Regions from separate parts of the Homo sapiens genome. Here all the other regions are reported to be linked to region 1. The links are microRNA targets in miRTarBase. Many come from high-throughput screens and were not tested one by one. Region 1 holds a microRNA gene; each other region holds the end of a gene's coding sequence.

The links. Region 1 holds the annotated microRNA hsa-miR-590-3p (UAAUUUUAUGUAUAAGCUAGU, at 2,822-2,842, opposite strand). A microRNA usually pairs through its seed, bases 2 to 8, with sites in the 3' UTR of a target mRNA and lowers its output. Matches are read on the target gene's strand: a 7mer-m8 pairs with bases 2 to 8, a 7mer-A1 pairs with bases 2 to 7 and ends in A, and an 8mer does both.
Region 2: the mRNA of WTAP is a reported target of hsa-miR-590-3p. Seed matches in the 3' UTR shown: 7mer-A1 at 4,061-4,067.
Region 3: miRTarBase lists FARSB as a target of hsa-miR-590-3p. Seed matches in the 3' UTR shown: 7mer-A1 at 2,872-2,878, 7mer-m8 at 2,291-2,297, 7mer-m8 at 2,251-2,257, 7mer-A1 at 1,444-1,450 and 7mer-A1 at 1,128-1,134.
Region 4: the mRNA of PHC3 is a reported target of hsa-miR-590-3p. Seed matches in the 3' UTR shown: 8mer at 4,138-4,145, 7mer-A1 at 1,390-1,396 and 8mer at 866-873.
Region 5: the mRNA of DIPK2B is a reported target of hsa-miR-590-3p. Seed matches in the 3' UTR shown: 7mer-A1 at 2,677-2,683 and 7mer-m8 at 3,930-3,936.
Region 6: miRTarBase lists DHX57 as a target of hsa-miR-590-3p. Seed matches in the 3' UTR shown: 7mer-A1 at 3,296-3,302, 7mer-A1 at 3,278-3,284 and 7mer-m8 at 3,273-3,279.

The regions. Positions count from the first base shown.
Region 1 is chr7:74,189,067-74,194,094 of GRCh38, reverse strand. It overlaps MIR590 (microRNA 590), which reads right to left and starts at 2,897; the gene lies at 2,801-2,897. It overlaps EIF4H (eukaryotic translation initiation factor 4H), which reads right to left. Exons shown (of 7, transcript NM_022170.2): 3 at 4,358-4,422; 4 at 4,177-4,273; 5 at 3,789-3,848.
Region 2 is chr6:159,754,709-159,759,736 of GRCh38, reverse strand. It overlaps WTAP (WT1 associated protein), which reads right to left. Exons shown (of 8, transcript NM_001270531.2): 8 at 3,418-4,709. The coding sequence ends at 4,126. It also overlaps a transcript of SOD2 not described here. Among named protein-coding and RNA genes, the nearest start is that of ACAT2, 4.8 kb to the left of the region's middle.
Region 3 is chr2:222,567,816-222,572,843 of GRCh38, forward strand. It overlaps FARSB (phenylalanyl-tRNA synthetase subunit beta), which reads right to left. Exons shown (of 17, transcript NM_005687.5): 17 at 1-4,207. The coding sequence ends at 4,056. Among named protein-coding and RNA genes, the nearest start is that of FARSB, 86 kb to the right of the region's middle.
Region 4 is chr3:170,092,888-170,097,755 of GRCh38, forward strand. PHC3 (polyhomeotic homolog 3) reads right to left here. Exons shown (of 15, transcript NM_024947.4): 15 at 1-4,497. The coding sequence ends at 4,343. Among named protein-coding and RNA genes, the nearest start is that of GPR160, 57 kb to the left of the region's middle.
Region 5 is chrX:45,147,701-45,152,728 of GRCh38, reverse strand. DIPK2B (divergent protein kinase domain 2B) reads left to right here. Exons shown (of 5, transcript NM_176819.4): 5 at 737-4,356. The coding sequence ends at 1,077. Among named protein-coding and RNA genes, the nearest start is that of DIPK2B, 51 kb to the left of the region's middle.
Region 6 is chr2:38,794,539-38,799,566 of GRCh38, forward strand. DHX57 (DExH-box helicase 57) reads right to left here. Exons shown (of 24, transcript NM_198963.3): 24 at 3,191-3,904. The coding sequence ends at 3,761. Among named protein-coding and RNA genes, the nearest start is that of GEMIN6, 19 kb to the left of the region's middle.

The DNA of each region.
Region 1 (5,028 bases):
TTCCCCATTCATTTGTGTGCCTGCTAAGTGGGCTCTTGGCAGAAGTAAACTGCATCTCATTTAGAAATGCTGAATTCCCACTGGTGTGTAGGAGGAAAGAGTATTTTCTCAATGGTCTTAAGGGGCCTTCAGGCTTGTACTTCAGTGAAAGCTAAACTTTAACTGTATAACCTACTGATGTTAAAATTTGGTAAAAAGACTGGTTCACGCCTGTAATCCCAGCACTTTGGGAGGCTGAGGTGGGAGGTGAGTATAGGAGTTCAGGACCAGACTGGGCAACACAGTGAGACTCACTCTCTACAAAAAACACAAAAATTAGCTGGGCATGGTGGCGCACGCCTGGGGTTCCAGCTACTCATGAGGCTGAGGCAGGATAATCGCTCGAACCTGGAAGGTAGAGGGTGCAGTGAGCCAAGATCGTGCCATTACACTTCAGCCTGGGTGATGAAGTGAGACTCTGTCTCAAGGAAAAAAAAAAAAAACTGGCGAAAAGAAGTTAAACCATAATTAAACAAATGAGCTTGCTGCTGTTGGTTGCGCACTCAGGGGGTGCCACTGCTACTCTCTGCGAGAGTGGTGCCAAGGCTCCAAGCTTTCAGGGAGCTTGTCTTTGAGAAGAACCCCCAGAGCCCGCAGTATGCACTATACAGTCATCCTCATTATCCACAGATCCCATATTTGCAAATCCACCCAGTCGCTAAAATTCATGTGTAATCCCAAGCTAGATACCAGCAGCATTTCTCCAGTCAGTCCTGGACCTGCACAGATGCGACGATCCCAGCTGAGGCAGAAAACGATAATGCTCTGCCTGTTTCAGTTATTAGCTGTCAAGTCTTTTCACGATGAGTGTCGGGTGTTTTGCCCTTTGGGCTTTTTCTGGTGACATCGCTGTCTGAAGTGGCCCCAGGTGCAGTGTGAAGTGCTGTCTGCTGTTCTTAAGTGCAGGCTGGCTGTCAGGTGTCTTACAGACAAAACCGGTGTGGGATGAGCTTTCTAACAGGCTGAAATGATGGCACCACAGACTACTTACTACAGCTGGCCCTGAGTTCAATGTTAACACTATTAAATGAATCAACACTAACATTAAATGAGGCGTCTTTAAAATCAAGGTCACATAGGCTGGGTGTGGTGGCTCACGCCTGTAATCCCAGCACTCTGGGAGGCAGAGGTGGGCAGATCACCTGAGGCTGGGAGTTCGAGACCAGCCTGACCAACACGGAGAGACCCCGTCTCTACTAAAAATATAAAAATTAGCTGGGTGTGGTGGTGTGCGCCTGTAATCCCAGCTACTTGGGAGGCTGAGGCAGGAGAATCGCTTGAACCCTGGAGGCGGAGATTGCAGTGAACCGAAATCATGCCACTGCACTCCAGCCTGGGCAACAGAGTGAGCCTCTGTCTCAAAAAAAAAAAAAAGAAAAAAAAAAAAGTCACATAAAGCAATGTTAGGTATGATCAGCTGACGAAAATGTTGTGATCTGTAGCACACAGGAGCAGCACCGCACGGGCTCATTCAGTGTTCTAGCAACTCCACAGAACCACCTCCAATGATAAGCGCTGACTGCATCACCTGTGGTGGGGGCCGATTTCTATTCTTTAAAGGTGGCAAGGGTTTTGGAAACCAAGGGATCTCACACCCAGTTCAGAGACTGAGTTAAATAATAAATTTTAACAAACCAAGTAATGAAAGCAAGTCTGAACAGATTTAGACCAATAAGAGCACTGCTTTAGGGGAAATACACTGGGAGGCATACAGTCGAGTATAAGGTCCTTTACAAAGTATTTTACCCACATTACACAGTTCAGTGAACAAGCCTAGTTAGTATTAAAACATTTAACTTCACGTTTCCCCCAAACTAAACTGTGAAGTGTACCTTTCCACGTGAGTACAAAGTAAATTTACACCCTTTACTATGAGATTAAATGATTTCGACCACCAATGTCTAGCGTGAAACAAATAGCTCACACCACGCTGGTGAAGCAGATGAACAAGGATCTCTCATCAAATCTGTTGGTGGGGGCCGGGCGCGGTGGCTCATGCCTGTAATCCCAGCACTTTGGGAGGCCGAGGCAGGTGGATCACGAGGTCAGGAGATCGAGACCATCCTGGCTAACATGATGAAACCCCGTCTCTGCTAAAAATACAAAAAATTAGCCGGGCGTGGTGGTGGGTGCCTGTAGTCCCAGCTACTTGGGAGGCTGAGGCAGGAGAATGGCATGAACCCAGGAGGCAGAGCTTGCAGTGAGCCGAGATCGCACCACTGCACTCCAGCCTGGGCAACAGAGCAAGACTCCGTCTCAAAAAAAACAACAACAAAAAATCTGTTGGTGGGTTTCTAGGAAGCAAACTATTCATGAGAATCTTCAGAGTTTTCTTTACAAAGCTTAGTTTAACACTGGCTATTTCTGATGATGAAATGTTTTTGCTTTCTTGGTACTTTTCTGTTGCTCTATTTTGTTTTTTACATGAGCAGGTATCATTAAAAAAAATAGCACCATCCTATTAAAAAGTAAAAAAGATCTACTCTCGCAAATAACGTATAAAGTATCAAATTAGCCATTACTCCATCGAGTGAGCCCACATAGGGTTTGAGATGTCACCAAAACACTGCAGTTCCCACCAGAACTGGTGGCGGCCAGGCCATGGCCGTGTTCACTGTGTCTCTGCTTGAGCGCCAGTGGCCAAGCTAAGCCAAGGGTAGAAAGACGTTAGTATGTGGGCAACTTCTATAACACCTGCGAATACCAAACTGGCAGGGGAAAGGCCGTTCCCTGAGCTGCTGGTTGGCTCTAAGAAGACAGCTGCTGCATGTTTCAATCAGAGACTAGCTTATACATAAAATTACAGATTGACTTCACCATACTGCACTTTTATGAATAAGCTCATTTCTGACTGGCTACAGGACTTTTAAGAACTATATTATTCAACAGGTAGTCGTCACCTGTTCAGCCAAAGCTGAGTTTTTAAAAATCTCAGACTCACAAGACAGCGTGCACCAGTCCCTCCCATACTCACCCACTACTTTACACCGGTTTTGTTTTGATGGGGGGAGGGTGCTGACGTTCTATACAGCACAGCATTGACAGCACATCCCAAGTTTGCGGGAAAGAAAACAAATTTGTTTTTCTCTTCCTACCTTTCTGGGTTACAACTGAAGTTTTTATCATGTGCATATATAAAAAATTATACTTTTGTAATTTAAAAACAGAAAGTAAAGATGATAAAAATGCTTAAAATCACCCTGCAGGGCAGAGGCCTGGCGTGTGGACTGATGCTTTGTGCTATACCACCAGCTGCTCTGCCTGGGTTGGCTAAGAAAGAGAACGGCGAAGTGCATCAGGTCCACCATCAAGGGACTGGACCTCCCCACAATCCTCCAAGAAAAAAAAGGGCCATCAGGACTACCTTTCACCATGTAAGAACCCAAACCTCTATCCTATGTTTTCCAGAAGGAACAGTACTTCTCTTGGTGCCATACACAAAACCACAGAGGAGTTTCCCTGGGCTAGAGTCTGAGAAAGACTGCTGAGCGAGCTCAAGGACCCAGGCCCGTACACATCCAAGGAGCTGCAGGCTAACAAAGGTGACCACACAAGGTGCATGGGGCTCAAGTCCTGCCCCCACAGGCTCTAACAGAGGCTTACTTGCATGCCTGGGCACCCTGCAGGAGAGTTGTATTTGTTAAAGGAACTAAATAAGTAGTCCGGCCAGGCGGGCTACTCGTAAGAAACAGAGAACAGCAGCAAGGCTCCTAGGAAAAATTAAGTGGTGATACTTTAAATACTGATACCAGAATTGAAGTCATCCCGGGAATCCCATCCACCTCTAGATTCTCGAGAGCTACCCATTCCTGAGGATACACAAAAAAGATAAAGTTGAGGTCGTGTCATTACCTTGCTGCGCAAACATGGAAAAATTCATTTGGAAGACATACAACTCAAGTGATGGAAGGTTCAATGAAATCATTTTAAGAGCTTTTGCTTCCAACAGAAAACAAAAAACGCCAGGCTTGCAGAAGCATCAGCCATTCTTTCTAGGATTTTACGCAAACTTTTAAGAGCTCACGAGAACCTATCACACCTATGAGATAATCGAGTTCTACTAGGAACGTTCACGAGTTGGAATTGGTAGGCATACTGCAAATCTTTATGATGTTCAGCTTTAGAAGAACCAATCACCTCTGTCATCTGGTCCACCTTTTCTGAATCCAAAGCCACCTTTATCTTGTTTTCTGCCTTCTGCAATGTCCACACGAAGTGACCGATCGCCCAACAGCTAATGATAAAGGGAAAATAGTGTAAGTATTGGCAAAGAAAACAATCTCAACTGCTATGACAGAGAAAACCCGAGGATACTTACTGCACCATCGTATGTCAAGGCTTCCTTAAGGGAATCCACTTCATCGAATTCTACATAGCAGAATCCTGGAAAAGAAAAGAAGACCCCGATTTCCTCAAGTAATTCTGGGTTAAAGATGTGGGAAGATCCTATTCATACTACTTCTCCACGTCACAACTACCATTCTGTTGTCTAGATGATGGCAGACTAGGAGAGCCTTTCAATAGATAGAACCCTGACTGGCATTCCTCCCTCTCAATTCTATTTTATCAGTCAGAAAATGCTAACTGAACATGCACTGAAATAGCAGCTGCGTTTCTAGAAAGCTTTCTTCTTGAATGTTTTAACCATAATATTCAAACCTTTCTCAGGCCATCTGCAGAGCTCTTCTGACTTCTGAATGACTATTTAATCTAAGTGAGGATTAGATTTCGTAGATTTCAAACTTGGTACCTAAAATGCTCTGAAGAAAGAGGCTTAAAGTGCCGATTTAACTTACTACTCAGGTAACTGACATAAAATTTGCTTCACAAAGCTGAAAATATATCCTTGGCAATCAGGGCATTCTTCTCTGAATGTTAATTAAAAGACAGGCAGCCTGGGTCCAAGTACCTGTTACTGACAACCTGTGTCCCTGATGCCAGGGGTCTGACATTGCCCCTTCCTTGCTGTCTGGAGTCTAAATCTAGTTC
Region 2 (5,028 bases), not on the chromosome of region 1:
TCATATGAGACAGACAGAGACTAAGAATAATGAATGAAGGAAAGAAGAGGAATTTTTTTTTTTTTTTTGAGACGGAGCTCGCTCTGTCACCCAGGCTGGAGTGCAGTGGCGCTATCTCGGCTCACCACAACCTCCACCTCCCGGGTTCAAGCGATTCTTCTGCCTCAGAGTCCTGAGTAGCTGGGATTACAGGCCCGTGCCATCATGCCCAGCTAATTTTTATATTTTTAGTAAAGACGGGGTTTCACCATGTTAGTCAGGCTGATCTCGAACTCCTGACCTTGTGATCCGCCCACCTCGGCCTCCCAAAGTGCTGGGATTACAGGCGTGAGCCACCGCGCCCGGCCAGCTGGAAGATAATTTTTAAAATTATGTCTTGGCCGGCCGCGGTGGCTCATGCCTGTAATCCCAGCACTTTGGGAGGCCGAGGCGGGCAGATCACCTGAGGTCGGGAGTTCAAGACCTGCCTGACCAACATGCAGAAACTCTGTCTCTACTAAAATACAAAATTAGCTGGGCGTGGTGCCACATGCCTGTAAATCCCAGCTACTAGGGAGGCTGAGGCAGGAGAATTGCTTGAACCTGGGAGGCGGAGGTTGTGGTGGGCCGAGATTGCACCATTGTACTCCAGCCTGGGCAACAAGAGCGAAACTCCATCTCAAAAAAAAAAAAAGAAATAAAATAAAATTACATCTAGATCTCAAATCATAAACTACCTGGACTGGTGAGCAGGGTGAGTGGGCAGGAAGCCACAAAAATCTCCAAGTGCTTACTCATGAGGAGCCATCATTACAGCAGTGCTATGGAGCCAGTTTATCCTGAAGGGGCCTTCTCAGCATCTTCCCCCGCTGGAAGATGCAATCATTCTTGGTTAAGTTTCATAAAGAGTTGCAGGAGTCCAAGCCAGGTCTTTGCTACAGGCTGGATTCACCAACCTACCATGCAGCAAATTCCTCCTTGGTCTCCATGAGGGGAACAGTGAATCACCAAAGTGGAATTGCCATAGGATGAAGGTCAGCAGTGTACTCCTTACCACTAGGGGCTAGCTCAACACTCCCTCAGCACAGCCACCCCATGATGGGTCCAGATCAGTTAATGACATTACCTGGGATTATGAAAGTGTTCACTATAACCACAGGGATAGGTGAACTCCCAAGACAGTGACGTAGAGCAGCAGGCAATGATTTGAGTACAGGGCATAACTACTCATGAAAGAGGGAACATCTGAGAAAGTAAGTTGTCAGAAGGAATGGCTTTACATTGTTTTGCAAAAGTGTCTCAAAAACTGGAGTAGTCAGTTGTATCCAATACACCTGAGGAGCCAAGGAAACTGACATCTATTGCGCTCTCTGTATGAGGACTACCAGGAACCAAACTGGGGCACCAATCAGGGGGCACTGTGATCTTTAGACTTCCCAGCCTCCAAAAACAGTGAGGAATGCGCGTGTAAAGCCACCCAGTCTGTGGTTTTTTTTTTTTTTCACAGCAGCCCAAGCTAAGACAGCAGTGAGTGCTCTTACAGGGGAGAAAAACAAAACAAAATATCGAGCCTCGAGGATACATTTGCCCAAATCAGTTAAGTGTAATACCAGGATTCAAACCAATTAGATGCAGAAGCCACTCTATCACCTCTCTTATCACAGGCATACCAGAAAATAAAGCATCCAATTCCAGAAATGAGAAATACTGACTCTGTGTACCACAGAATAAGTGCTCTGAGTTATTCATCAAGGCAGACTCAACAGAAACATGAAAATGTCACATTAACAGGTCCATATTAAATTCAGTCATAAAATTGTATCACTGGTTGAAAAATTAATTTCCTATCACAAACTCTTGATTACATTACACCAACAGGACAGAGAAATTACATTTTTGTTTAAATTGGTCAAGTTGAAGGATGTACATAACAAAAGCCAAACACAGTATCTGATATATCAAACACCAAAATGTTTAATCACATGCAAATTAAAAATCGTATAGGATTTTTTACTCACTTGAGCAGACTGTAGAAAAGGTTAATCAAGGTTGGGCGCGGTGGCTCACACCTGTAATCCCAGCACTTTGGGAGGCCGAGGTGGGTGGATCACAAGGTCAGGAGTTCGAGACCAGCCTGGCCAACACAGTGAAACCTCATCTCTTCTAAAAATACAAAAATAAGCCGGGCATGGTGGCGCACGCCTGTAATCCCAGCTACTCAGGAGTCTGAGGCAGGAGAATTACTTGAATCCGGGAGGTGGAGGTTGCAGTGAGCCACGATGGTGCCACTGCACTCCAGCCTGGGTGGCAGAGCGAGACTCTCGGCAAAAAAAAAAAAGAGAAAAAGAAAAAAAAGAAAAGGTTAATCAAGAGACAGTGCAGTATTTAACATACTGCTGAAGACCGGATATACCTGTATCAGCTAAACAAGCAAAAGCAGCAATTACTTTCAAATAAGTTGTACCTCAGTTTTCGAGTATTATAACTCCACTCCCAAGGTTCCTTGATTGTATTACAAGTTATGTCTAAAACAATACTTTGCTTTTAACAGAAATGGAATTTCATTTCAACCATATATGAAAGCTACACATTTGAAGGCCATTCAATATCATACTTTTATACTTAATTACCTCTGAGAAAATGGAGCAAATTTTGACATTCTTCCACCTTAAAAACATTTTCTCCTACCTACATTCTAACACCCCTTACTCATATAATATTACCAGATATGTTGTTAGTAAAAATCAGTAGTGCTGGCCAGCGTTTTAAAACAAACATCACTAACTACAAAGATACTCTACTTGAAATCAGGTCACAAAAAACCAACGCTGCTTTTCAATTAAAACTCAAAAAGGGCCAGGAGCTGTAGCTCACTCCTGCAATCCCAACACGTTGGGAAGCCAAGGCAGAAGGATCCCTTGGGGCCAGGAGTTTGAGGCCAGCCTGTGCAACATAGCGAGGCCTTGTCTCTACTAAAATTAAAATAAATGTAGCTGGGTGTGGTAGTATATGCCTATAGTCTCAGGTACTCGGAAGCCTGAAGTGGGAGGATCACTTGAGTCGAGGACTTTGAGGCTGCAGTGAGCCATGACTGCACCACTGCACTTGAGCCTAAGTGACAAAGCAAGACCCTGTCTCAATTAAAAAAAAAAAAAAAAAAAAAGCCTAAGAAATAGATGACTATTTTCTTTATACTTTTCTGTATTTTAAAATATTTTGTAACAATTATAAGTCAAGAAAAAATTTTAAGTGTAGCCCTAAACTCCAGCTCCGTTTTGCAAAATAAGGCATAAATTAAAAATTGTGTGCAAAATCGTAATCGATGCTTGGTCTTAAGTTTGACTGTTGTGGTACTTGAAGGATAATGAGTAGAAATTCAATGACTCAATGAAAATGACAAATGCTAAACATACACCCAAAACAAAACAAAAAAGCTAATTAAGGAGTTACAATAAAAATCTTTATTTAGGTTTGGTCAGTACAGGTAAGATATACTGGAGTCACAGAGCAATATGCATTAACAGGATACAACAGTTCATAAAAACTGAGTAACTATGCACACAAATTTCTTAAACAGTCACCTAAAGAGAAAATGCACAGATGTATGGTGGAAAAAACTGTATCTAACACTGAAACTACTACAGGACTCCATCAATGAGTCCAACTTTTAGTGATAAAAAACTACTGTACTGGGCAAACTTGGCAGTCATAAACCCACATCTACTCTAACAAGTCTGAATGGTGCATAAGTACAGTAACAGCATGAGTACGAATGCCCTTACACAGCACAGATTCTAAACAGACAGATTTATACAGACATCATTGTGTTGTATTTTAAGGAAAAATTTCCATTTACAATTTCACATTAACTCATATAAAAATAACTTGACCCTACACAAAATGTCCTTTTAGCAACATTCAAAGTAATTAACTGTTACAATTTCCAAAGCGGCAGAAGTATTGAAGCAAAAAAAAAAAAAAAAAAAAAAAAAGAAAAGAAAAAAAAAACAAAGAAAAAAAACAACAAAAAAAAACCAAAACGTACACCCACAAAAAGGCAAATTGTGACAAAAGTATGCATTAATTTTCTGGACAGTATCCTCTCCCAAATTAAATGACACTGTATAAAAATTTGCTGAAAAAATATTACAAAACTGAACCCTGTACATTTACACTTGAGTCCAAGCCATTCTGAACGTGGCGGGAACCCACAGTTCGATTACCTTTCCCACTCACTGCTTTCTCCTCTTGAGGGTCATGACTGGAGTCTGTGTCATTTGATTGGTGTGTGAGAGAGTTTTCACTGCCCGTGGGAGAGTCTACACTTTCATACCCCGCACTGAGTTGATTTACGTAACCACTACCTCCTCTGCCAGTTCTCTCCTCTGAGCTGTTGGAGGACTTATTACCATTCCCTGGAGAAGAAGGAAAGTCATCTTCGGTTGTGTTGCCCTCCCTGTGAAATCCAGACCCAGACGTCCTCTGGCGGGAGGAGCTACCATTACTTGGTCCGTTTGTCAGACGACTGCAGTCTTTACTTGTGGCCTCTGACTGTTCTACAGGTTCAGAAGCTGTAGTCCTGCTGGTACTTGGGGCAGAGGCCTGAGACTGCTGCTGCTGGTACTGAGCCAACTGCTGGCGTGTCTCCTTCAGCTGCTGCTGCAGAACTAGAATGGTACTCTGCATACCCTCTACTTCTTCATCAAGCTGGATGATGAAGTCATTCAGTTCTGTGCAAAGGAGAGTCAGACCAACTTTAATATCGTTTATAACATTGAAAAATGTTTCTTTAGTGCCTGCCACAAAGCAAGGGAGTCAATAAACGCTCAAGTAAACAAATACAATTCTAAAATCACACTACATTTAAAAATTTTGCTTGGAATCTTAAAATATGACTGAGTTTGTTTTGGGGGAAGTCAGATACTTAAAATAATATACAGTTGGCCCTCCACATGCAACAATGAATTCAAGCAACTGTAGAAGGAAAATATTCAAGGAAGAAAAAACTGGGTCTATACTGAACATGTACAGATTTTTTTTCTTGTCATT
Region 3 (5,028 bases), not on the chromosome of region 1:
AGTGCTATTTAGCAGGATAGGGGGTTCATTGGAGCAGTGTTTATAATTGCAAACAGTTGGAAACAACTGAATGTCCACCAACAAGGGAATAATTGAACAATTACGGACATCTGTACAATAGAATATTACCTCATTTAAAAGAATGAGATAGGTCTATAGGCACTGACCTGAAAAAATGGGGCATATTAAGTGAAATGTCATGAGATATATGTAAAATAAAAAACAAAACTTGTTGCAAACCAGTAAGTAGAGCATGACCCCCAAAAATGTGAGCAGGTGTGTGTGGCTGACTGTACAAATCAAGGAAAATGTCCAAACTAAGGAACAATACAGGCTAAATTGTTAACAGCAGTTAGTTACTTCAGGGAATCAGGAGGAAGAAAGGTAGATTAACTCAGTAAGGCCACAGTTTGCAGAGTTTTTTTAAAGTATTGGACTTAACAATTTTTAACTTTTTGTCTCCCATTATTTTTATATTTTTAAAAAGTGTAGAAAGTCCCATTATTTACTTTCGCATAAATAAGTAAATAATGCAAATCAGTGAGTGGTCTGTGGACTCCAAGTCACTCTTTTATAGTGTCTCAAACTCATTTATTGGCTATGTGACTTCTGAGTAAGTTATTGATCTCTCTGAAACTCAACTGTTTTCACCCTACACATCAGGGAGAATTCCTACTCTCATACCGTTATTAAACCAAAAAAATTAAAATGTGAAAAAAGATCAATTCAAAAATAATTTAAAAACAGAAGAGCAGGCTGGGCGCCTGTAATCCCAGCACTTTGGGAGGCAGAGGTGGACAGATCGCCTGAGGTCAGAAGTTCGAGACCAGCCTAGCTAACGTGGTGAAACCCCGTCTCTACTAAAAATACAAAAATTATCCAGGCATGGTGGCACACACCTGTAGTCCCAGCTACTCGGGAAGCTGAGGCAGGAGAATTGCTTGAACCCAGGAGGTGGAGGTTGCAGTGAGCCAAGATTGTGCCATTGCACTCCAGCCTGGGTGACAGAGCGAGACTCCGTCTAAAAAAACAAAAAACAAACAAAACTAGAAGAGCACTGCAGGACTGTGAGGCTGTAGTGGTAGAATTTAAGTTTTTTCTAAGCTAGAACAAAAATCAATTCCATTTAATTTTCACTTTAATACTAGAGCTCCCAGTTTTTACTAAGAAGGTGTGCATCTTCTGTAATAAAGGCTTTTGGCAGTACTCACAGACTGCCCTGGCTCCAGTTCAAATGCTTCACCAGGGACAAGTGTAAGATGATCTGGCTGCAGAGCCTCGACTCATGAGCTGGATTCGCTTCTTCCAATGCAGCCGACACTGTTTTTCTGCCTACCATTTCCTGCTTCCGAGGGCAGAAACATCTACATGATGCATGGAGTTGATCTTTCCCCTTTCATGCTGGGATATACAATTAGGCATTAGTGGGTTTTTCATTACAAGTAATTTTGGCCACCCCCAAAAATATCCAGGTGGGTAGCTGCTGACAGAACAAATGGTTCCACCTACTTCAACAAGGGCTATCATATGATGATCCATAAGCCATGATTTTAACTAGAGCGAACCTGAAACTAAGGGAGAATATATCATTAATAGCTGTGGACCAGTGAGCCACCTTGAGCACAACTGCCAATTCTACAGTTCAGGCTATTTCTCTAGGCATTTATCAACTGGTGTTATGTAGTTAAAATCAGTAAAATACTACATGTTACATTACATTCTTTTTCTCCCAGCTTTACAAAGGTATAACCTACACCTGAAGTACACCTACCACCTCAATTAAGATAAAATTTCCATCACCCCAAAAAGTTTTCTCTTAACCCACTGCAGTCAGTTCTCTTTCCTGAGGTCCTGCCGACCACCTGCTTTTGACTTTTTTAGACTCTCAGGTAAATAGAATTAAATAGAGTCTTTTGTGTCTCTTGCTTTCACTTAGCATACTGTTTTGAAATTCATTCATGTTGTTTTGAGGATCAGTAGTTCATTCCTTCTTATTGCTGAGAAGTATTTCATAGTATGGATATACTGCAATTTGTAACTACTATAAGTAACACTGTGAACACTTGCATAAAAATCTTTGGCCATATGGGTAAACCTAGGAATAGAATGGCTAGATGGTAGGTGTATGTTTCAAGAGACTGCCAAGCTGTTTTCTAAAGTCACAATGTAACATTTTACATTGTGACTCACCAGCAGTGCATGAAAGTTCCACTTGCTCCAGTCTCAGCAGTATTTGATTTATGAATCTTAAATTTTAGCCATTTTAATGGGTATGCAGTTTGTCATTGTGAATTTTAGTTGCATTTCCCTGATGACTAACGATGTTGAGGATCTTTTCAAGTGCTCATTCATATGTCATCTTTTGGGAAATGTTTGCTCAACTCTTGCACATTTTTAAAAAACAGTTGTTTTATTTTTACTATTAAGTTTTATTATTAAGTTTTAAGAAATCTTTATGCATGCTGGATACAAGTCCTTTTGGCATGCATTATTTTTAGAGGGCATATTTCATTTTTAAAATGTTGTAAGGATCTGCTTATAACAGAGCTGTGAAGGGTCAGCTGGAAGTGTGTGTGTTCACAAATCTTACAGAGTTAGACACTGCTGCCCCAATTCAAGGTTGTAATATGGTCAGGTTTTCTCCTAGTAGTAGACTCAGCAAAAGATCCATAAACATAATTCTTATTTCACTATCTTTGTTAGCTACTTCTTCTTTTTTTTTTTTGTAGACAGAATCTCACTCTGTCACCCAGGCTGGAGGGCAGTGGCACAATCTGGGATCACTGCAACGTCCACCTCCTGGTTCAAGAGATTTTCCTGACTCAGCCTCCCAGGTAGCTGGGACTGCAGGCCCACACCACCATGCCTGGCTAATTTTTATATTTTTAGTGGAGATGGCATTTCACCATGTTGGTCAGGCTGATCTCGAACTATTGGCCTCAAGTGATCTGCCCACCTCAGCCTCCCAAAGTGCTAGGATTACAGGCATGAGCCACAGCGCACCCAGCCTTTGTTAGCTATTTCTACTGGGACTTTAAAGTATTATATTTTATCATATTTCTTATTACTTCAATAGTACCTGGGAACTTGTCTCAAACATGAGACCCAGCTTTTTTCCAGAGATGGTACCTACTGGAGAATTCTAGATTGAAGTAAGAAAGGAAATTAGGATATAAAACAAGGAGGATTGGCTGAAGCTTAGCTTCAGAAAAAGAGAGGTCTAATATCTCCCTGGGACAATAGAGAAACTAGTAGCTCAATTAAGTATTTAAAACCATGATTTTATAACTGACTGATTACAGTAACATGTATGGCCTATGGCAAAAATAAGCTTCTCATTGTTTCCTAATGTTCATACTGCATTGATATCAATACTTGTCCATTTTAACTCTTACAGCAGAACAGATCTTTGTTGCATGTACTCTATCTTAGAGTATCACAGATAGAGTAAAAAATACCTATGCACCCTCACATATTTTGAATCCTTGTATTACAGATTTTTCTTTCACTTTAAACTGACCTCAGAAGCTATAATTGTTGGACCATAATTGATTCTTAAACGTTTTCTAAAAATATTGTTATTTTAGTGTTTCTCAATGATGAATACATGTCAAATGTAGAAAATCAAAGCTAAACCCCTCAGTTATCTCGAACTCATGCAACATGAATTCTCATCGATTATCTTGTTTTATCAATAAGGAAAGAAATGGGATCTTGTTATGCAGGAGTAATCCGTTCCAATGTGATGTTCTGATGTCTGAGGAGCACGTCTGCCTTTCAGAACAGATCCTGCACTCTGCTAGTGCATTTCTCCAGCACTCCACGGGGCTTTTACCCAACAATGCAGCTTCACACACAGACACCACACTGGTATATGGCACAAGCTGGCCTAATATGCAGGGAAAGGATGGTCTCTACCCACACAGCCAGACAGTGCTTTCTACTTTATTAAACATCAAAGCCCAAATAGATGTTCCCTGTGGAGGAGGACTTAAGGACACTAGGGGAGGAGAAAGGGACACCTGGGAAGAGAATCACACCACAGAGACCAATCTTCACAAAAAGGGTCCAACATTGATTTCTAGGGAGGAGCAGGGCATGGTCAGCTCAAATTTGGTGATAACGTCAGGATGAAGGACCCCAAGCTTCCCGACGCTTTGACCCCTGGCAAAGATCTCTGCACATCGCCCGGGGAAGAAAGCAGGCCCTGAAAAAGAGAAAGTAAGAGAAAAATCAATGTTTCTTCTGGCAAAACATCAATAGACATTTAACACTAAAAGCCCACTAGTCTACTTTAAAAATAACTATTCTTTAAATCACTGGCTATGAAAAGAGAACGCTTCCTCATACTTTCTAGTATTTAAAAGAAGGATTTGCTATCAAGAAACTCTTGCAAGGAAAAAATCCGGGGCAAATATGAAAATAAGGGCCCTGTATTTTTGGTAACAGGGACCCGAGCAGGAAGGATGAAATCATGGAGGCTGCTGAAGGTCCACAGTCAGAAGTCCTAGGGGAACTCTGCCTGCACTTGGAACTGGTCCTAAAAAGGCCAAAAGGAAAAAAATGAAACATAAAACTGATGAACTTAATGGGAAGAACCTGTTTTCAAACAGGTTTTTCCATAGCAACGCTCACTGGATAAGACATCGACACTGAATTCATTTGCTCTGTACAACTCTTCCTCACTCTTTCTCACCTTATTACATAAAGAAACTGGAGCCGCCGTGTCATAGGCCGGCTACTGGGGGAACCACACCTCTGATGACAGGCCATGCTACCAGAAGGCAACCCACATTCCCATCTGAAAAGAGCTTTCTAAGCAGTTCTGAAGCATCTACTGTAAAACCACAGCAAAGGCCAGCCTAACACAAGTCTGGGTTGATGCCTCATTTACTTCAAGACAGGCAGAAAGTTCTCTTTATCTGGGTGCCAATGCACTGATACAGCTTACCAAGGCAGTAACAGTTCTTGAGATTTACAGAGCTAAAAATGAACATATGGGCCCACTCCATATTCATGAAATTACCA
Region 4 (4,868 bases), not on the chromosome of region 1:
TGACATATAAAAACTATAACCTATTTACTGCTATAACTGGCATCTAACAAAACGCATTATTTTGAACTATGGATGAAAGCCATATCTATCCTAAATATCTTCTATCCTCTTGGGTCTAGAATGCTTTGTTCCTCCTACTTGTCTCCTCCTCTACTTCCCTATCCTTCCCCCTAGAAAACCTTCCTTAGGGCCCAGCTAGTTACATATGTAGTACACAAGATAGAGATTGAGCAATCATTTTGCATAGATGCGCCAGTTTCCACTGCCCAAAGGTTGCTCTGGAACATGACTGTCAGGTATCAGAAAGTCCTGCCCCAGCTGCCTCCCTTCCTAAAGTTAGCCCCCATACGAAATCCTCTCTAAGGATTCTGAGACAAAGATCTCTCCAAGAAAGAAGTTTTCATGGTTTTCTTGGAGCTAGAGGCCTTAGAGAGGTAGTGAGATGAGGCCCTTTCATGCCATTAGCTAATGCTCAATGCCAGTAGGCTGCATGTGTTCCTGCAATCCACCAAGGTGAAAACCACAAACTATAACCAGGCTGTTCTGGCTGAAAATACATCTTTAAAACATTTTAACAGTGTGTCCAGTCAGTTTCATCCACTGGATATGGCTGTCAGGTCAGCATCACTCACATACATCTATAATAGTGTATTCTTTCAAAAATTGTTTATACACACTTAATATAGGCATATAGCCTAAGACTATATTGCCTCCCTACCATACTTGTGCCATTGTGGTACCAAAAGCCTGAAGATGTACATAATGTACTTTAAGACATTTAACTGAACAAGTCAGTGGGAGACAGGGCACTATAACACATTTCAATTCAATCTAAGACTTGTATTTGTGAATAGATGTCTCATTATAATTTTATACTTGATACATGAAGATAAGCTACGTCAAAAATTATTCAAAGGCATGATCACAATAATACTTGTTTCATAGTTCTAAGTATTTTGATACACCAGGAAACAAAAATCAACTGGGATCCCTAATGAAAGAAAATTATTTCTTCTAAGTAAAACATGAATTTCACTTCAAAAGTGCAGAAATGTGCTCAGTGTTGAAGTAGGCTAAGCTAACAAGGATGATGGCCTCCTCCTCTGACTCTTCCCATGCTCAAGCTTTTGCATTACCATTTCTCTCCTCCCATTCCACCTTGTCTACTCCTAGGTGACTGCTCTTAAAACACACCTTTTAAAAAGTTCTGTTTAGAGCATTCAACAGCAAAGTAACAGGACCATCAGGGAAATAATATGCTACTTAAAAAGTGACAGGAGGATTTGGGACAACACTCTATCTCATACTATATTGACTACTCAAAGCTGCATAGCTGTGTCTTACACATGCCTACACAAGGCTTGATGAATATTAATGTCATATAAAAAATAATTTTTACAAATCAGCTCTCTTAGTTGTTTAACTTCCCCAGGAACACAAGGCTTAAAGCAAAATTTCAAACTTATGCTTTTTATCCCAATGGGACAAAGAGTGCAACACTGCAAGGAAGTCAGAAAATGCAAACTTAGGTAGCAAAAGTAGGAAGAACCTCCATGTTCCCTTTCTGTTTGTCATTATCTCTCCCCAGTCAAAATCCTAAAACTATTAGTAGTAGTATGAAAGGATATGAAAACAATTTACTCTCCCCACCTATATCATACTGAAACTCTGCTTTAAAGCTCAGGAGAGAGGTGGATGCTCAGTGTTGTCTATATATCCATTATATATAGCTGAAGCTTTGAAATTAAGATGATTAACTCATCTTGAAAGAAACAGCTGCACCAATGTGATAGCAAACAAGCCATTTTTAAATAAAAACTCACTTGAAAAAAGCAAGTGCATATTTTGTGTATGTTTTGAGTGGGGACAACAGAGATCTGGACTAGATTTAAGATTATACGGTATTCTCCAATAGAAAACCCTCTTGTAAGCCCCTCCTGAATACTTAAGACAGCAGTAGGCACAGGGGCTTTCAATAAGTACAGAATGGCTGCTATTAGGAAAGAGAACAAATAAAAGGAGAGCCTACAACACAGTTCAAAATTGATACCTTAAAGGCCATAGGTAATACAGTTATAGGATGTAATCATTATTGCTGGAGCAGTCTATCCCCATATAATAAATTTTGTATTAACCGTGGATAATCTATGAAAAGTTTTAATTCCAGGCGAGATTTTCCGTTGCACCTCTCTCTCTCATACTGTGGGCCATCTCTTACTAATGCTTAGCCTGTATTTGTGTTCTGAAATTCCAAGAAGAGGGAAAAGTCAAGCATATGACAATTCTGTCATGATGATTAACTGCTAATAAATGAAAACTCATTATAGAGTACCTAGCTTTCCTTGATACTTTAATCCAATGATTAAAAATGTGATATAAAGAAATACGTAACATAGACTACAAGCTATCGTAGGTCTGGAACATGAGCCTTATATTATATTACATATTCTAATCCTACATGTAACTATCAGTAAACATCTTTTTTTAAAACATTACTACACAAAGAATTCCACAAAGCATACATTCAAACAAGAGGCATCTAAAGATTAAAAAAATTACCCGCTGTATTTTTGTATAAAAATAATCAACATTCTCTAATGTACACAAAGCCAAAAGATAAATATAGTATCTGTGATGTCTTCAGTGACATCTTTAGTCTTCTACCAGCTCAACACAATCTTTTTGAAAAGAGCAGTGAAAATGACTGAAACTCACGGACTCTTTTTTTCCCCTCCTTACTCGACTTCTGCCAAATATCTGTGTATGTTCCTTCAATTACTAAAATATCTCAATTGTGGTAATATAAGAAAAGATGAAAACAAAACATTCATCATCTCAAATAAAATTTTTGATGTCCAGGACTATAAAGCTTTCAGGGCTTCCACAAACAATTTTGTTTTAGTGTCATAATTCTATAGAACACTGTTCAGTAAAAGGTTTTGCTTTACATTTTTTTCCTCAAACATGTACATACAAAATTATATCCGATGGTTCAAGAGAAATCACTTGGTAAGTGCTTTGCAGGAAGCATGCAAACGTTTGGTAAAGGAAGTAGGAATGTGCATTCTAGCTAGTCCCAGCATGTTCAACAATAGAAAAAAATCCAAAGAGCAACCACGTATCTGCTACAAACTATTTTCTTGCCAGAAAAGGCTGTGCACTAGTTCATAGGTATAATCATATTATGTCTTCGTCAGTGCAGAGGAGCACAGAGGTATGAAAGATAATCAGAATGAATTAGTACTTTCTGAGAGTTAAATTATTTGCATGTTTGTCCTTATTTTATAGGACAATTTGTAGATTTTTTTTCTTTTTCTAGTATGATTAAACTAGAAAAAATTATTCAGCAGAATATTAATGTTATCTGAATAATACTTCCATCATATATGTTTAGTAAGCTTCATCCTTTAAAAGTATTCCTTTGGGTGAAAACAATATTTATCACTCCTTCTATATCAGAGTTTCTCAACCTTGGCAGTACCGATATTTTTGAACCAATAATTCTTTACAGTGGAGGGGTGCTGTCCTGTGCATTATAAGATGTTTAGAAACATCTCTGGCTTCTAACTACTAGACACCAGTAGCAACCCTCCCCTGAACCCACCCCCAAGCTGTGACAACCAAAATGTCTCAACATTGCCAGATGTCCCCTGGCGATCAAAACTGACCTCCACTGAGAACCACTGCTCTAAATAAATGTACAAAAACTGAGAGGAAAACGTTCTCAGTCAAACCAAATTCTTGGTCAAGTTTGGAATAGAAACTAACTCTTCTCACTTCCAGATCAGTATTGTTCATACTAGAACACAATTCCTTTTTTATAGATAAAGCATATGTCTAAAAGACATGTTTTTTAAAATGTACACTGATTTCATACGATTCTGTCACTGGACTACTAAATTATTCCATAATATACCTCTCATGACAACCTTTAGAAAACTAATAGGGTAGAAAAAATGTATAAGAAAATTGAATCAAAAGAGGAGAAATGTAAATCATTAAATTACTTTTAAAAGGATTCTTTATATTAATGATAAACATCACCTTTAAAAAAATTATCTAGTATAACACATTTCTTTGAAAAATATCATGGCCCTCTGTAACAAGTCTTTCAATGTTTCATGTAACCTGTAAAATTAATTTTACCAATGTTTATTAATTATGAAAATGCATGATGAATTATTATACCTGTAGAAGAAATGTCAGTATTTGATGTGGAGATCCCAATGTGCTTGGCTATCCACCACAATAAGTGTCATATTCTAGACCAAGTTAGGCCTTTACCTTACAAGTTTTTGTGAGAAAAGTAAAACTGCTGTTTTATCAAGGCTTCATGTTCCTGTTAAGATTCCTTCAGAGAGTTGATGCGTGCACAGATCTTCAGGGCTGGGCCTAGCTTGATATTCATTGCACTCATGAGATGGTCTTCTTTCAGCAAGAGAAGGGCCTGTCCATCAATCTCCTGTGCTCTGAATTCATCTGCGATATCCTGGCAGCCTGGAATTTGACCAGAGGACAGAAGTTAGAATTAAATATACAACAATTAGACATTACTCCTAACAGTCACAGTTATGCTCTCACTGGGTCTGAGAATCTGAAATACAGGCTGAGAAACAAATGAAATTTATTTATGGTAGTCTTGAGTTCACTCTTGAAGAATAGAGTATTTGCATTCTGAAAATAAGAATTCAAAATCCAGGTAAAGCAATTTGCTTGGAATTCTTGCTCTAAAATAATGTTATAGAAATAATTCATAAGAGGGAAGTCTAGATATAATACTTCCTTCACAAAAAGGACTATGGTGTTACCTCAAAGCATGCCACATAACAGGTTTGGGTTAACTAGTTATACCTCATGCACTTATCTCT
Region 5 (5,028 bases), not on the chromosome of region 1:
GAACTCCTGACCTCAGGTGATCCACCCATCTCAGCCTCCCAAAGGGCTGGGATTACAGGTGTGAGCTGCCATGTCCGGCCCTCACTTTGCATTTTAAAGGCGCAAATGAAACCAGTCCCAATAATTTCCTGAGTTCACTAATTTAGTAATAATGAGAGTCTAACAATATGAATGTGATCTCTACAATTATCAGCCTAACTTCTGGTAGGGGTAAGTGGGTTTTCCATGCCCAGGCCTCACTCTATTGTAGCAGAGTGGATTCTTTCCACGTGGTTCTCAAAAGGAGCCACTGTGTCCCTGAGTCCTAAATCTCCTGGTGACAGGGAAATGCTAGGAGACTATACTAGTTCACCCAGTAATTTTTTTTTTTTGAGATGGCTTTTCGCTCTGTCACCCAGGCTGGAGTGCAGTGGTGCAATCTTGGCTCCCTGCAACCTCCGCCTCCCAGGTTCAAGCGATTCTCCAGCCTCAGCCTCCTGAGTAGCTGGGACTACAGATGCATGCCACCACACCCAGCTAATTTTTGTATTTTTAGTAGAGACGGGGTTTCACCATATTGGCCAGGCTGGCCTCGGACTCCTGACCTCAAGTGATCTGCCCGCCTCAGCCTCCCAAAGTGCTGGGATTACAGGCATGAGCCACCGCGCCCGGCCCCACCCAGGAATTCTAATTAGTGGTGCCCTCCCTCAAGGAGCACTGGTGGCAGGGTGTGTAATACTTCCCATTTCTTTTCTAGGCAGCCAAGAAGCCAACAGGGCAGGAGAGAATAAAGACATTTTTAGCTGCCTGGTTTCCGGCTGCCAGGCCCAGCTGCCCTCCTGCGAAAGCATCTCTGAGAAGCAGAGCCTGGTGCTGGTGTGTCAGAAGTTGCTGCCTCGACTTCTCCAGGGGAGGTTCCCCTCCCCAGTGCAAGACGACATAGACTCCATCCTTGTTCAGTGTGGGGACAGCATCCGCCCAGACCCAGAAGTCCTTGGGGCCGCCAGCCAGCTGAAAGACATCTTGAGGCCCCTGAGAACGTGTGACTCCAGATTTGCCTATCGTTACCCAGATTGCAAATATAACGATAAGTTCTGAAGGGCTGGTGTCTAGCTGGCCTTGGGGACAACACGCTTGGCTCTCCATTCTCCCAGTCGGGTTGCTGCAAGGTAGAAAGAAGCAGCTCTTTTTTAAAGATGAGAAGAAAGGCACACTCATTTCTTAGGGACTGAGAGGGGAGTTGTGAGATACCACGTGGCTGTCTCTGCTGGCTGGGACGTCCTGGCAAAGCCCGCGGTGGGCATCAGAAGACCTGGGTGTGGACGCTCACTCAATGTCTTTGAGCCTCAGTTTCCTCTGTTCTCCACCAGACTCTCCTGAGGGTGAAAGAAGACACAGATGGAGCCACCACTGAGCATATATCCCAAGCATGGGTCTTGGGACACATGCTCACCACCTCCATCCCAGGTGGTTACAAAGTGTGTTCTGGAAAAGCACAGAGGCGGGGAGCATGAGAAAGAGCTGCTCAGGTCAGGAGGCTGGAGTGGAGGGAAGGCAGGGGAAGGACAGGCTCCCTGCCACTACCACTTTAGACTCGGACAAGAGGGGCCCCCTTCCTGCTCCCTATGGCCCTGCGTCACTCCCCACACCATCGCGGGATGAGGAGACTGCAGGCCAAGGGGACATGCCTGCCACCACCTAGAGCCTGGTACCTGAGGCTCCATACACCTGCGCATGGGGCTTCTCGTGGTGTGGGAAGAAGCCAGGGGTAAGAAGATAAAGGGGGGCCGGCGGGGGACCAATGTGTTAGCCCAAGTCTTCCAAGAATATGTGTCAAGATAGAGTGAATGGAACAAAGATTTGTTAGGGGAAATGATTGTGTGTAAGGAAAGAAGGAGGGAGCCGGAGAAGATTGGGAGGACCAGTAAGTCGAGCTGCAAGCTGAGCCCCGGTGAAGGAGAGAATGTCTGGCAGGAGCTTGCTAAGCTCAAAATCAAAGAAAGGTTCAGCAAGGCTGTCAGGGTGTCCTCAAGACAAAGGCAGCCATCAGAAGAGCCCCGTGTCTCCCACAAATAGACCCCGTTAGCATCCCTGCTGCACTCAGTGGTTGGCGGAAACAGCAAAGATAGATTTCAGAGCACAGCAGCAGGGGTCCCTGGTCAGCCCCGCTCCCTAGAGCAGGAGATCTTGAGTGGGAGAACATTCTTGTTGTAGCCACAGCTGAGGCCCTGGACCAGCTCTCTCCACACCGCATGCTCCGAGTTGGGACTCTAAGGAGTCTAGGAATTTTCATTCAAACTTGGCCTTACAGGTCACTCATCAGAAAAATACTTTTTTCAAGGTCAACCAATAGAACATACTTTATTCAACAGTTTGTTAGTTTGCTTTTTAAATATTTAGCCACATGGTATGTAGGCTTCCATGTACACTCTTGCCCTGGCCCCTGAAACATAAGCAGGGGGCTCTTCTGTACATTTGCCCAGCTTCCCTGCCAGCCTTTAACCCCAGGAACCTCTCAGTCTACCTCCTCTTTTCTGCCTCTGAATCCCTACCTTTAAAGTCAGAACAGGCCAGGCCCGGTGGCTCACGCCTGTAATCCCAGCACTTTGGGAGGCTGAGGTGGGTGGATCACTTGACATCAGTAGTTCAAGACCAGCCTGGCCAACATGGTGAAACCCCATCCTTACTAAAAATACAAAAATTAGCCAGGTGTGGTGGCGGGCACCTGTAATCCCAGCTACTCAGGAGGCTGAGGCAGGAGAATCACTTGAACCCAGGAGGCAGAGTTTGCAGTCAGCCAAGATCACGCCACTGTACTCCAGCCTGGATGACACAGCGAGACTCCGTCTCAAAATAAATAAATAAAAATAAAGTCAGAACACCTGGCTTAATAGGCCTCACTGTGCAGATGAGGAAACTGAGGCCCAGGGAGGAAGAGCGATCTGTGGAGATATTTCTAGAACCCCTGCAAGCTGAGCCCCAGTGAAGGAGAGAAGGTCCAGTAGGAGCTTGCTAAGCTCAAAATCGAAGAAAGGTTCAGCAAGACTGTCAGGGTGACCTCAAAGCAATGGCAGCCATCAGAGGAGCCCCATTGCTATTAGGAGGCTCCTATTGCCCTCCCCTTCAGCCTCTGACTTTCACCTGTGCTACCCAATTCTGGTTCCTTCACTCCCATTCAAAAATGGACCCCAGAAAAGCCTTATTTTGTGGAGTACCTAGTTCCCTTTTGGGTTTGTCTCTTGACTGCTACGGGCATTGCCCCAGGGCAACCATGACAGTGAAGATGACTGGCCAAGCTTGTGGACTGGCCAGCAAGCTTGGGCTGCCTGAGACGCTTTGAAATGGCTGCCTTCTGAGTTGGTCTTGAGGGTGAAGACTGACCACCCTTCTCACCTGCACAGTCACAGTCCCTCTCCTGCTGGCCTGACTGCAGCTGTCCTCCCAGCTGGCCACCTGACCAGAGACCAGGAGAGAGGCCACAGCCTCCAGACCCTCCAGAGTCCCACGGAGGAAGAAGGCTTACCAGAGAGACCCTCTGATGCATGAGCCAGGCCCCAGCCCTTCTCCCTGCATCCAGGTGTGTTTCCACCGCAAAATGCCTCCACACAATGAGCGACTTTGGCCCTGCGTGGGTCAGCATGTGGTCTGAGGTAACCCTCAAATGCCTCCACCACACATCTGTCCACCTGCACGGGTTCAAGGTAAGCACTTGCCCCCTTCTCTCCTCCAGACCAGTCGCCTGAAATTCTGAGCAACATTCCTTCAAGACTATCATGTAACCCTTGGTGATGCTGAGTCCAGACAGGAAATGCAGACTTGGGACCCACCTGTATCAGCAGAAAGAGGCCTTGTGCCCCGTTTGTCCGAGTCCCAGAACGGAGCAAATGAGAAAACCGGCGAGCTGTCCCCCGAGGAGCTGTAGGGAGATTGGTTTTTAGTATAAATTACAATAAAATTTTGTGTATGTGTACAGCTGTGTTCACATCCACAGTGTAAGCTGTGATATGGTTTGGATGTTTGTCCCCTCCAAATCTCATGTTGAAATGTGATCCCCAGCATTGGAGGTGGGGCCTGATGGGAGGTGATTGGGTGATGGGGGAAGTTGCCTCATGAATGACTTGGTGCCCTCCTGGAAGTGATGAGTGAGTTCTCGCTGAGCTCACTCAAGATGTGGTTGTTTAAAAGAGTGTGGCACGTCCCTCCCCCAACTCTCCCTCTCACTCCCGCTCTCACCATGTGACACACCTGCTCCCCCTTCGCCTTCCACCATGATTGGAAGCTTCCTGAAGCCCTTACCAGAAGCAGATGCCAGCCCCACACTTCCTGTACCACCTGCAGAACCATAAACCAAAATAAAGCTCTTTTCTTTATCAATTACCCAGCCTCAAGTATTTCTTTATAATAATACAAAATGGGCTAATACAAGCTGAGTGCTAAGGAGCAGGGCAGATGTCAGGCAGGCCCTACATATGCTTAGGAGTGGCCTAGAAATAGTTCCCCAGCTAGTGGCTTTTCCTAGGTTCAGGAGATCACAGAGTCCTTTTCTCATACACCTTCACGACAGAGCAGATGTTCTTGTCAACATGCCTGAAGACCACAGGCCCCACTCAGCTGCCTTCAGGGAACATTTTCCTGCCTCCCGCCAGCCACCTGCTAACCCTCCCCCACCCACCCTGTGGTGGACACAGAGCTGAGCCACCCAGCTCTCCCTTCAAGAAACAATGCTCTTCCCAGCATGGCATGGTTGGCACACAGCATTAAGCCATCAGGTCCTTCGGGTTCTGCCTCAGCCACCTTCACTCGAGGTCACACCCTTCCTAGGGCATATCTAGACCCAGTGACTAGGCATGCAGAGGTGTGAAGGCCCCGCAATTTTGGCCCATTGAGCAACAACTCTAATAGGCAATCCTCCTTCCAGAACTCCCCACCCAGCTGATCAAGACTCATGAGCCTGCCTCACAGTTTAATGTCCCTCTGCCCATCCTGCTTCCTCTGCATTCTTTTTTTCTTTCTTTCTTTCTTTTCTCTTTTTCTTTCTTCTTCTTTTTT
Region 6 (5,028 bases), not on the chromosome of region 1:
AATCACATGGGAATTAAGCATAATTCCTCTGGCTTATTTTCCCCCACATGCAGGGGTAAAGTTTGCTTAAAATACTCAGCTAGTTAATAAATACAAGGCTAGTTGTTGTTTTCAGAAGTTAGATCTTGGTCACGAATCTGTGTCAGTCAATACTTGCATGATCACAGTACAGAGGTGCCCTAAATGGAAACAACGTGGAAACAGCTCATTCAGTTTGTTGTCAGAGCAATAGTTTCAGACTGTTCCAGAGTGATAAGCTTCTTCCATGTCTTTTGGTCCCATAAATGTAAAGCGATGGAATGACTGGGTGAACAGTTAACCGTGATGAATCATTAACATGGAGAGACTTTCTGCTGTTTCTAAGCTGTCACCTCTAAAATTATTTATCAAAGACATTGGTCTTAGATGAGATTTGTAGCCAATCACTTATACTTAAGGGGCTTTAAAATCTTACAAGTTTTAATCATTTGTTTATCAAAGAGCAGAAGGAATCTGCACTTTGGGAGGCCGAGGCAGGTGGATCACAAGGTCAGGAGTTCAAGACCAGCCTGACCAAGATGGTGAAACCCTGTCTCTACTAAAAAGACAAAAAAATTAACCAGGCATGGAGGCAGGTGCGTGTAATCCCAGATACTCAGGAGGCTGAGGCAAGAGAATTGCTTGAACCCGGGGGCGGATGTTGCAGTGAGCCGAGATTGTGTCAGCCTGGGTGACACAGTGAGACTCCGTCTCAAGAAAAAAAAAAAATCCTTGAAACACTATACTGCATTCTGATCTTTCTTTCTTTCTTTTTTTTAAGACAGAGTTTCACTCTTATTGCCCAGGATGGAATGCAATGGTGCCATCTTGGCTCACTGCAAACTCCGCCTCCTGGGTTCAAGTGATTCTCCTGCCTCAGCCTTCCAAATAGTTGGGATCACAGCATGTGCTACCATGCCCAGCTAATTTTGTGGTTTTAGTAGAGATGGGGTTTCACCATGTTGGTCAGGCTGGTCTCGAACTCCTGACCTCAAGTGGTCCACCCACCTCAGCCTCCCAACGTGCTGGGATTACAGGCGTGAGCCACCATGCCCGGCCTGCATTCTGATCTTTCATCATAAATAAGTAATTCTATTTCATTTCTTATTTCATTATTTTAATAATGAGCTTAAGAAGTTTAGTCTTTGGGGCGAGGATATTCTTACTCAATGCGTTATGTCAAGGCTTCCCAACCTTTATCACATTCTGGCATATCTATATCATGACAGTATTCATGCATCTATATGTGGTTGGAAGTGACCATCCAAGAGCTGGCTTTCCCGAAGGAATCAGTTTCACTGGGTGGAAAGTTTTGCTGTTAATTATCTCCCAGCTGAGTGCTCTGGGGCAAACTTGTGTTAAATGCTGCAGGCCCACTTGGGCAGATGGCTCTAGCTAGGGTGGCATGAGCACCACTGTAGCACCAAGAGTGAAAACTGATGGGTTTTTTGTTTTTGTTTTTTGAGATGGAGTTTCGCTCTTGTTGCCCAGGCTGGAGTGCAATGGTGCGATCTTGGCTCACCAGAACCTCCGCCTCCCAGGTTCAAGCAATTCTCCTGTCTCAGCCTCCCGAGTAGCTGGGATTATAGGTATGCACCACCACGCCTGGCTAATTTTGTATTTTTAGTATAGACACGGTTTCTCCACGTTGGTCAGGCTGGTCTCAAACTCCCAACCTCAGGTGATCCACTCGCCTCGATCTCCCAAAGGGTTGGGATTACAGGCGTAGCCACCGCGCCCAGCCGTGAAAACTGATTTTTAAAAACTTTTTTAGGCTGATTGTGGTGGCTCGCGCCTGTAATCCCAGCACTTTGGGAGATCGAGGTGGGTGGATCACGTGAGGTCAGTAGTTCGAGACCAGCCTGGCCAACATGGTGAAACCCCATCTCCACTAAAAAAATACAGAATTAGCCGGGTGTGGTGGTACATGCCTGTAGTCCTGGCTACTTGGGAGGCTGAGGCAGGAGAATCGCTTGAACTCAGGAGGCGGAGGTTGCAGTGAGCCGAGAACCCACCATTGCACTCCAGCCGGGGTGATAAGAGTGAAACTCCGTCAAAAAAAAAAAAAAAAAAAGGAAAACAAAACTTTTTTAGAGGCTTAATGCAGTTTTCTTAATTTCTTCTAAAGGTCTCAGCCTAATCAGTTCTGTAATAGGAGCCTTGTTTCAACAGCAAGTCAGAATTTGGATTCTGTGGGTGCTTGCATATGTATGTTTTTTATTTAAAGCAATGACATGAATCGATGCCTTTTAAAAATACTGCTTAGAGTCTAAGCTCTTCAAGTGCACCAAAGCTTAAATATACTTGATAATAATCATTTTGGACAGCCAAGCAGACTTCCTGAAAACTTAACTAAAATAATACCTTGAAAAGTGAATACCTTTCACTGATTTCACTGAGATGGTTTTGATTTAGTTTGAATTCTATCCATACTATGGAACCTGTAGTGACCCTGTCCTGAGGTCCATTTTTTAATTTTTATTTTTGAGACAGTGTCTCACTCTGACACCCAGGCTGGAGTGCAATGGTGCAATCTTGGCTCACTCCAAACCCCACCTCCCATGTTCAAGTGATTCTCCCGCCTCAGCCTCCCGAGTAGCTGGGACTATGGGCACCTGTCACCATGCCTGGCTAATTTTTGTATTTTTAATTGAGATGGGGTTTCACCAAGTTGCCCAAGCTGGTCTTGAACTTCTGACCTCATGTGATTGGCCTGCCTCGGCCTCCTAAAGTGCTAGGATTACAGGCATGAGCCACCGCGTCCGGCCCTGAGGTCTAAACAAACATACAAATATTTTTTCTACTCAGCAATTTGGGATCCTTCCTCGCCATACTGATAGATGTCCAGGGAAAATGTAAATCCCCTGATGTTTTTCCAAAATGCTAGCGCCCCATTAACCTAACAGGTGGTTGAAAATAAGCAATTTCATGGAAAGCATTGTGGTGGCTGTAAATCCGATGGTAACCTTTTTGACCTCATCCATGCCAACTCTGCCCCAGGAATGCTATTAAAATTCTCCTTCGGTGATTCGTGTCTGGGTGAGTTGATAAGACAGAGTAAAGATTCCTAAATGTAGAACTATGACGACATCTAGATTGTTCTGCTTTTAAGAATAGGAGTGTTATCGATAAGACCAGCTTGCACTTTAATACCAAAAGAGAACTCATTCAATTTTTTTAAGTTGACTTTTAATGAGTAAAAATAAAAACCCCTCACAAGTCAAGTTTACTCAGTAGCCAATAGCCTAAAATGAAATTTTAATTTTGCTTGTTCACATAATTTTGGGTTTTTTTTCCCCTTCTCTGTTCTGACTTCTCTCAGTCGAGCCTTGGCGACAGGAAAAGAAAAAAAAAAAAGGCGTATTTCTCTTCATGCCCCTCTCACCCCAGTAAAAAGTAGGAGAAAAAGAATACACAGATTAAAACAGAATTGTATTATACATTCACTTTTGAGTTATCAGGTGAACTTAATTCACTCCAGAACAATCACAGAGACAAAGACAGGCAAGCTGGGTTTTAGGCTCTCACCCTTGACACTCCAAATTGTGCTGGGAGTGGCCAAGGCTTTGTTAGAAATGGCCCTAAGGGTATATACACTGCCTCAGCTGCCTTGGGCTTCATGCCCTGGGCTCCTCCACCAGGGCCAGCCCCAATAGGTCTTTAGTTCGAGGTAGAGGTTCTGCTGTTATTTCCCAGGTGAGCTAGAAGCAGGTGAGTAGCAAGCACTCTCTAAGACTGCTTTTTATTGTGTGGTGACAAGTTTCACAATTGTGCTGATGATCCGGGATCCTCGAGGACACGTACACAGATCAATGCTTGGGTTTTTAATTTTATCCTGGAGAAGCTGATCAAGTTCGCAACGAAGCTCCTTTACCAGTTCAGCCACCTAAAATGAAAGCTACAATATAAGCAGTGCTTGGAGGAACAGGCAGGATAGGTTATTGGAGGGAAATACCCAAGTTATGATTACCATTATTTAGATTTCTGGTACTAATTTTAACTCCATTAGGAGCAAAAACCCTAAATACATTTTCATTTTGTAATAGACTAAATGAGGTCCATTGTAAAAAAGTGCCTCTATCACATCTCATCTAAAGAAAAGATTCGGGCCAGGCGCAGTGGCTCACGCCTGTAATCCCAGCACTTTGGGAGGCCAAGGCGGGCGGATCATGAGATCAGGAGTTCAAGACCAGGCTGGCCAACATGGTGAAATCCTGTCTCTACTAGAAATACAAAAATTAGCGAGTTGTGGTGGCATGCGCCTGTAATCCCAGCTACTCAGAGGCTGAGGCAGGAGAATGGCTTGAACCCAGGAGGTGGAGGTTGCAGTGAGCTGAGATCGCGCCATTGCACTCCAGCCTGGGTGACATAGCGAGACTCTGTCCCCCCTGCTCCCCAAAAAAGAAAAGATTCAGTCTGGAAGTATGGCTTTTATATAGTGTTCTCCATATTAAAGTTTGGTCAATTTTTATGATTTATTCCACGAGGAGAAGCAGGAAAATGGGGAATTAAAAGTGGTAGAGAGGGCCGGGCCCGGTGGCTCACGCCTGTAATCCCAGCACTTTGGGAGGCCGAGATGGGCAGATCACCTGAGGTCAGGGGTTCGAGACCAGCCTGACCAATGTGGAGAAACCCCGTCTCTTAGTACTAAAAGTACAAAATTAGCTGGGATGGTGGTGCATGCCTATAATTCCAGCTACTTGGGAGGCTAAGGCAGGAGAATCGCTTGAACCTGGGAGGTGGAGGTTGCGGTGAGCCAAGATTGCGCCATTGCACTCTAGCCTGGGCAACAAGAGCGAAACTCCGTTTCAAAAAAAAGAAAAAAAAAGGAAAAGAAAATTTACTGATCACCGATCACTCCACTGCAGACCTTGTTGTCTCAAAAAAAAAAAAAAAAAAAAGGGTGGTAGATAGGCTGGGCCGGGTGGCTCACGCTTGTAATTCCAGCACTTTGGGAGACTGAGGTGGGCGGATCACCTGAGGTGGAAGTTCGAGACCAGCTTGACCAAC